Homo sapiens: one gene and its partner. Changing the gene in region 2 together with the main gene of any one other region gives a genetic interaction. Each region holds a gene or a part of one and is shown on either strand. Other genes may lie near its edges.

What was found. A genetic interaction does not mean that the proteins touch.
Region 1: changes in ZNHIT6 (region 2) and PRIM2 together harm fitness less than expected from each alone (positive genetic interaction), as found in Homo sapiens cells (one large-scale study listed by BioGRID).

The regions. Positions count from the first base shown.
Region 1 is NC_000006.12:57,530,630-57,534,129, reverse strand, and holds part of PRIM2 (DNA primase large subunit), read right to left. Parts: intron 1,720-3,500; coding exon 1,647-1,719; intron 1-1,646. UniProt on the Homo sapiens protein: Regulatory subunit of the DNA primase complex and component of the DNA polymerase alpha complex (also known as the alpha DNA polymerase-primase complex) which play an essential role in the initiation of DNA synthesis.
Region 2 is NC_000001.11:85,649,434-85,652,933, forward strand, and holds part of ZNHIT6 (box C/D snoRNA protein 1), read right to left. Parts: 3' UTR 1-3,500. UniProt on the Homo sapiens protein: Required for box C/D snoRNAs accumulation involved in snoRNA processing, snoRNA transport to the nucleolus and ribosome biogenesis.

The DNA of each region.
Region 1 (3,500 bases), on a different chromosome or scaffold from region 2:
ACAGCATTGAGAAAGCCAGATTTGTTAGAAGAAAAAACTAAAGAAAACATTTGGAGAAGAGTTGCAAATACCAAGGGATATGCAAATGACATGCTGTTGTGAAGATCAAACAATATAGATACAGAGTTAGGAGGCAGTCCAGAAAAAGATACATCTGTATTACTCACCACGGGGTCTCAGGCACAGACCCATGACAGGATCATCATCATAGCACTTAACATTATATTGCTCATTTATTATTTATTATGTTGTCCCTCTCCCTCATGTAAGGTCCATGAAGGCAGGGACATTTTCTGTTTTCCTCACTTCTGTATCCACAGCACAATGGCTGCTACATAACTGATGGGCTCAATACATATCCATTAAATGAATTAATATTTCTATGAACTCCAACAGTATCCAATGAAATTCACATTTGCTTGTGAATAGGGAAACATCTAGCTAGAACTAAGAACAGAATTAACCTCCAACCATTCACATTATATAAGCACAAATCACATGAGTGGAAGTGAGAAAGTGGACTGTTAGAGATAAGTGTTTAATAAAAAAATTAAAAGATGGGACATCTTTGAGAACAAATTTCAAATCAACAAATCAACTGTGTAAAGTAGGCAACCCTACTGTTATTTCTAGACATATTAACTGCAAGTACTTTTTTATAATTTTTCAAATGGAAGACGACCTATTCATTCTGATCCAAACTCACGTTCTTTCTCTACTAGTCTTATTACAGTTCTTGTTTCCAAGCATTAAAATCCCTGTGTATTTTTAATTTATTGTGAATAATTTGGTAGTTGTCTAACCCAAGATTATTTATGGCTGGCTTATTTTCCCTTTGTGTATGGAGTGCAAATGCTGTTATGTATTAAAGAGAAATTCTACAAGTATGGCAAAGTACGCTACCCTATGGAACCACAAAGTCAAATGATGCTAAAATAAGCTATCTATTAATCTCGTAGCCTACACTGGATGATGAATTGTCCTCTCCCCCTGAAATTCATATATCAAGTCCTGACCTCTAGTAGCTCCAAATGTGACTATATTTAGAGATGGGGCCTTTAAAGAACTCATTAAGATTAAAGGAGGCCATGGGGGTGGGGCCCTGGTCTCACATACTCAGTGTCCTTACAAAAAGAAGAGACACCAGGGATGTATGCAAGCAGTGGGAAAACCACAGGAGAACACAAGGAGAAGGCAGCTATCTGTGAGACAAGAAAGGCCCTGGAAGAAATCAAACCTACTATCCCTTTGATCTTGGATTTCGAGCCTCTAGACTGTGAGAAAATAAATTTCCGTTGTCATGACAACCCTAACAAACTAATACACTTAGTGTTTTCCATTTCCCCTTTATTAAATGTATACACTATTTAAATGTAAACACAAACTCCATTTAGCTATTTAAAAGAATTCCTGTTTGGAATAGTTGATTAAATTCTGTTTTCATAAAAGTACAGATAATTTTCTGATTAAATGATTTTCTTATGATTTTTTTTAAAATCATCTAAGTGGGACATGGGATTTTCTTTAAAATTAATCAGCAAGCAGTGAAATAATATTCTATCTCCTCACCCAAAAGTCTTTGATTTAAGAAAATCTATGTTCCCTCCATTGATAAAGTTCTAAGTTTAAAATAATGTTCTACTTACCAAATCAATCTGATCTAAAGAAATCTTCCCAACATTTCCCTGGGTACTGTAATCTTGGCCAGTGTAGGAATGACTTTAAAAAAAGAAAAAAAAATATTAAAACAGATTCATAAAATACTTTTGATCCCTTCGAAGGAAATTTTTTAAATTCTGAAAATGATTAAAATAAGAAAGCATTTTACATGTAAACCTTAGCAGAAACATAGCCAAGTGTTTTAAACGTATTTAATGAAATTAATTTAAGTAACTTACCCCAAAATAATAGAAAAATATAGTAACAGTCTGAACCTCCTGACTCCTAGTCTAGAGCACCACTTCCATTTTTTTAGAAGCATAATCCAAGTTGTTGTTAAAGTTCAAACCTCTACCATTTATCCTTTATTAACAGCACGACAACATAGCAAAAAAGCAGCTGGAACTTAAATTGGGAATCATCACTTAAAAGTAGTAGGTGAGCAAGTTACTTAGTTACTCTCTGTATGCCAGGTGCCTTATTGACTAATGGCGATAATAATGCCTGCTTTGCAGTGTTGATAGGAGGTCTGAATTGTAAGAATTTTTGTTAAAGAGCCTGACATAAAGCAATCACTGTTTATTAAAATAAATAATATCTGAATAGCATTTTACAGTGTACAAAGAGTCTTCAATAGCCTCTAATTAGATCCTTGCAACCCCCTGAAAGAGCGTTTCTGTATATCATCTGATGAATGGAGGCTTGGAGGAGTTAGAAACTTGTTAGGATCAGAAAGCAAGTCAGCAGTGCAGTGGGAACTCAAACCTTTTGATTCCTAATTCCCCATTTTTTCACCGCACCATATCATCCTCTTCCCTATAATAAATTTTCCTGCATGATTATCTTCAAATTAGGAAACATAACTTGGTATATACTACCTTAAGCCACCCACCTCAGTAATGTTTGACCTCCTTCACACAACACACTACTCATGCCCAACTCCATGAACACAGACTCAGGTGCATGCAGGTGTGACATAGCAAAAAACAGCTGCTAGATTACATAGAAATTCACAATCAAACCAAAGATTATACAAATACCACAACTAAAGGGAAACCCTGGAGTGAAGAGTCATTATGATCATAAAGAATTCCACCTGGGCAACAGAGTAAGACTCTGTCTCTACAAATAATAAAAATTAAAACAAAAACAAAAACCTGGGCATGGTGGCATGCCTGTAGTCCTAGCTACTCTGGAGGCTGAGGTAAGAGGATTGCTTGAGCCAGGGAGATCAAGGCTGTAGTGAGCCATGATCATGCCTGAGCATTCGAGCCTAGGCTATAGAGCGAGACTGTCTCAAAAAAACAAACAAACAAACAAAAAATCCAGATACTACTTTCTATCTGCTCAGTTACAGATTCTACCTGCTGAACCACATATACGCTCAAGATGCTCTGTAGACAGGCTGTTGTTTCCATAATCAATCAATTTTACTGATTAAACAATGGGTATGGATTATGAAGCAAAACCACAATATAGCTGGCTCACACCTGTCATCCCAGCACTTTGGGAGGCTGAGGCAGGCAGATGGCTTGAGCCCAGAAGTTCAAGACTAGCCTAAGCAACATGACAAAACCTTGTCTCTACAAAAAATACAAAAATTGGCCAGGCATGGTGGTGTGTGCCTGTAGTACCAGCTACTCAGGAGGCTGAAGCAGTAGGATGGCTTGAGCCCAGGAGGTGTAGGATGCAGTGAGCTGAGATCATGCTCCACCCTGGGTGACAGAGTAAGACCTTGTATCAAAAAAAAGAAAAAAAAAAAGGTACAGATTTCCCCTCCCTGCAAGTCCTCCTCCTACAGGCTAAGAAGGACCTGAGAATTACTCTGAGAGCAGGATGAG
Region 2 (3,500 bases):
ACTTTATTTGGCAAGAAAATAAAACTGGAAATAGAATTATATAGCAGCTCATCAAATGCTAAAGGATGCATTTGGTTCTAAAGTTCAAAATGAGTACAGTACATCACACTCCAGTATGGAAAATGTTCATGTTATAGGTCATTTTAATGAACACATGCACACACACTTTAGTTTTCAAAGACCAAAGTTTAAAGAAAATACTTTTTAGTCAAGTACAGATCCCCAAAGGTTTATTTAAAGCCAATTTTTATTTAAGTAGTCTTCATTTTTGAAGCATTTTCCCCTAGTACTCTAATTTCAAAATCAGTATCTCTCAAATGCTGATGCCACTGGGAAAAATTTCCAAATTGGTAATGGAAACATATGCTATGTGCATCTGCTCAAACTAGCAACAACATGATGTCAAATAAAAATGGATGGCATTAAAAAAAAAATCCAAAAACCTATAATGGCAACTCAAAGCAGCAATAATAAGAAGAAGAGATTAAAATCTCTAGTTAAAAACAATCAAGACTTGCAGATTAAATCTGAACTTTACTCCTTCTGTTAGTACAAATCAGAAACTTCTTGCTACTCAAATTCAAACAGGGTGCAATGAATGTGTTACTTTCGTATTCCCAGTAACTACCTTTCCTCACCTGCTCCCTACATTCTGGCTTTCTTCTAAAAATTTCCCCCTCCTTTGGGTGAATTCCTCTCTTGATTAGCTCAGGAACGGAATGTGATCCAATCTGGGCAAAATAAAAGTACTTCTCCAAAATTTTACATAGCTTGCTTTATAAAAGCTTTCAGCCTTGTTATGCTAAGGTAAGCTGAAAATGTCAATTGCTGTTATCCACCATCCTCTCACCTCACTGTTCCTCATCCCATACAGAATATCCCCAAAGGGAAAATCTGAAAAGAAAACCAATCCATAAAGAAGAAAATAATCAGAGCCAAGTGTGTAGGATGGCAAGATGACTGCTTTTGACGTTTGGACCCAGGACCCAGTCATTGCCTGGACTTCCCTGTATATAAGCCAATGAACTGCCCTTCATGCTGACACTATTTTGAGTTTTTGTCACTTGCATATAAACAACACATTTTAATGCAACAGAGTACAGCTTAGTCCATTTTGTGTCGCTATAATAGAATATCTAAGACTGGGTAACTTATTTTTAAAAAGAGTTTTATTTGGCTCATGATTCTGGTGGCTGGAAGGCTCAAGATTGGGCAGCTGTATCTGGTGAGGGTCTCATGTTGCTTCCACTCTTGGTACAAAGTGAAAGGGGAGTAGGTATGTGCAAAGAGATCACATGGGAAGGCAGGAGGCAAAAAGGAGAAAATCAAGAAAGCCAGACTCTTTAGTAACCCTTGCTTGTGAGAACTAATCCATTCCCACGACAGCAAGAATGAGAACTCACTCACCCCAGTAGGAGGGCATTAGTTTATTCATGTGGGATCTATCTGCCCCCATGACCCAAACACCTTCCATTAGGCTCTGCCTCCCAACACTAGCACATGGGGAATCTAATTTCAACATGAGTTTTGGTAGGAACAAACTATATTCAAACCATAACAGTATATGATTAAATAAAAATAGACCAGCATCTTTATGTAAAATTTAGTAACATGAAATAAGGTACAACACAAAGTATATGTCAACATAATTAAACAAAAATGTATAAAGAAAATTGTTGGCATTATAGTTATGTGATTAACATTTTAATTATATGTCATGAAACCCAAATCCCACTACTTGCTACAGGGAAACAAACTGGATCAACTACATTTTGGAATCTTAAATATCTATTTTTAATAACTTTTTTTTTTTTTGAGGCAGAGTCTCATTCTGTCACCCAGGCAGTGCCCAGGAATGCAGTGGAACAATCTCAGCTCACTGCAAACTCTGCCACCAGGGTTCAAGTGATTCTCGTGCCCCAGCTTCCTGAGTAGCTGGAATTACAGGTGCCTGCCACCACGCCTGGCTAATTTTTGTATTTTTAGTAGACACAGGGTTTTGCCATGTTGGCCAGGCTAGTCTCAAACACCTGACCTTGTGATCTGCCCGCCTCAGCCTCCCAAAGTGCTGGGATTACAGCTGTGAGCCACTGTGCCTAGCCAATTCATATTTATAAAAGGAATAGGTACAAGTTTTATTTACTATAATTTATGACTATTAATCCTATATGTATAATTAGCAATTATGAAAGGCCTATCTTCTCTTTGAAATCACTGTTTAAAAAAATAAAGAAAACCAGGTGGAGCTTTTCTCCTTTTAAAATGTGATTCATGAACAAAATGCAGGATGCTGAACTTAACATGGGTCAAGGAGTTTGTTTACACACCAGAATTTGACAATAAGCTAACATGGAGAGGGCCTCCAAAAAGATATTGGGTCTCAATGCTACAAACATCTAGGGTTTTCAGTTAGTTATTCCAATTTCATTCTCTCCAAGCCATTGGTAATTCACTAAAACACACGTGTATTGTAAATCTTACGGGAAAAAATATGCATATTAATCAAATGAGTTGATAATTATATTTAGGGGAATTCTAAGAGTTATATTCTTTCCTAATAGCCTATAATTGAAAAGTCTAATAGAATTCTAGAAAATAAAGATGGCAAAGATGCATTAGATAATATAGATTTCTTTTTTTCCTCCTGAGCAGTGGAAACTACAGGATAGTTTGTTTTCTGTCCAGGTTTCAATTTAAATTCAGAAGGGGGGATGGAACTCAAGACTTTTCTTGGAAATGAGACTACATCATAACAGATTTCACTGTCAAAAAATTCCTATCCACCCTCATATTCAGATCATATTCAGATCGCAAGTTCTTTTTGTATACGTTATCCCACTTCTCCTAATAACAACACGTTTCACTCAATTCATCTATTTCTTGCTGGTTTCAAGAAGACACATTTCACTTTTGATTATAAATGAATTCCTTGAAATCTTATTTGTCTCTCCAATAATACTGTGAACAACGTAATTCTACACAAATTCTTTATCATATATTAGAAGATTCCTGATGTTGCTTTAGAGATTATAAATATATATGTATGTATGTTTCTCAAGTTGCAAGGACTCACTTTCTATGAACTTTCTATGAATCACATTCCATTAGTACTTTCATACCAAGGGTCCTTCTGGCATTATTGTTTTTCGATTCTCTTCTCCAGTTTCTACCCCAAGTTATACTTGTGTCCCACAAATTTATCTTCTGCTCATCTTCTCATTCTCTTTTCATATTTCAGATCTTTTTAAGTCTCCTTAACTAACGTCTCTGGTTTCTTTTTGGTAAAAAACTTATTCCAACTGTAACTAAAAATCAATTTCATTAATGTCCAGTTTTATCATTGCTTTTTAACCATTAAGTACACACATACAATATAGATGTAACAATCTTTTTACTCTCTTACAGTCATATTGCAGTTTCACAGTGGTATAAACTCCAATAAAATTAAGAATTTTTTTTCAGTACATGAGATCAAACTGTATACAGAGCTGCCATAACGT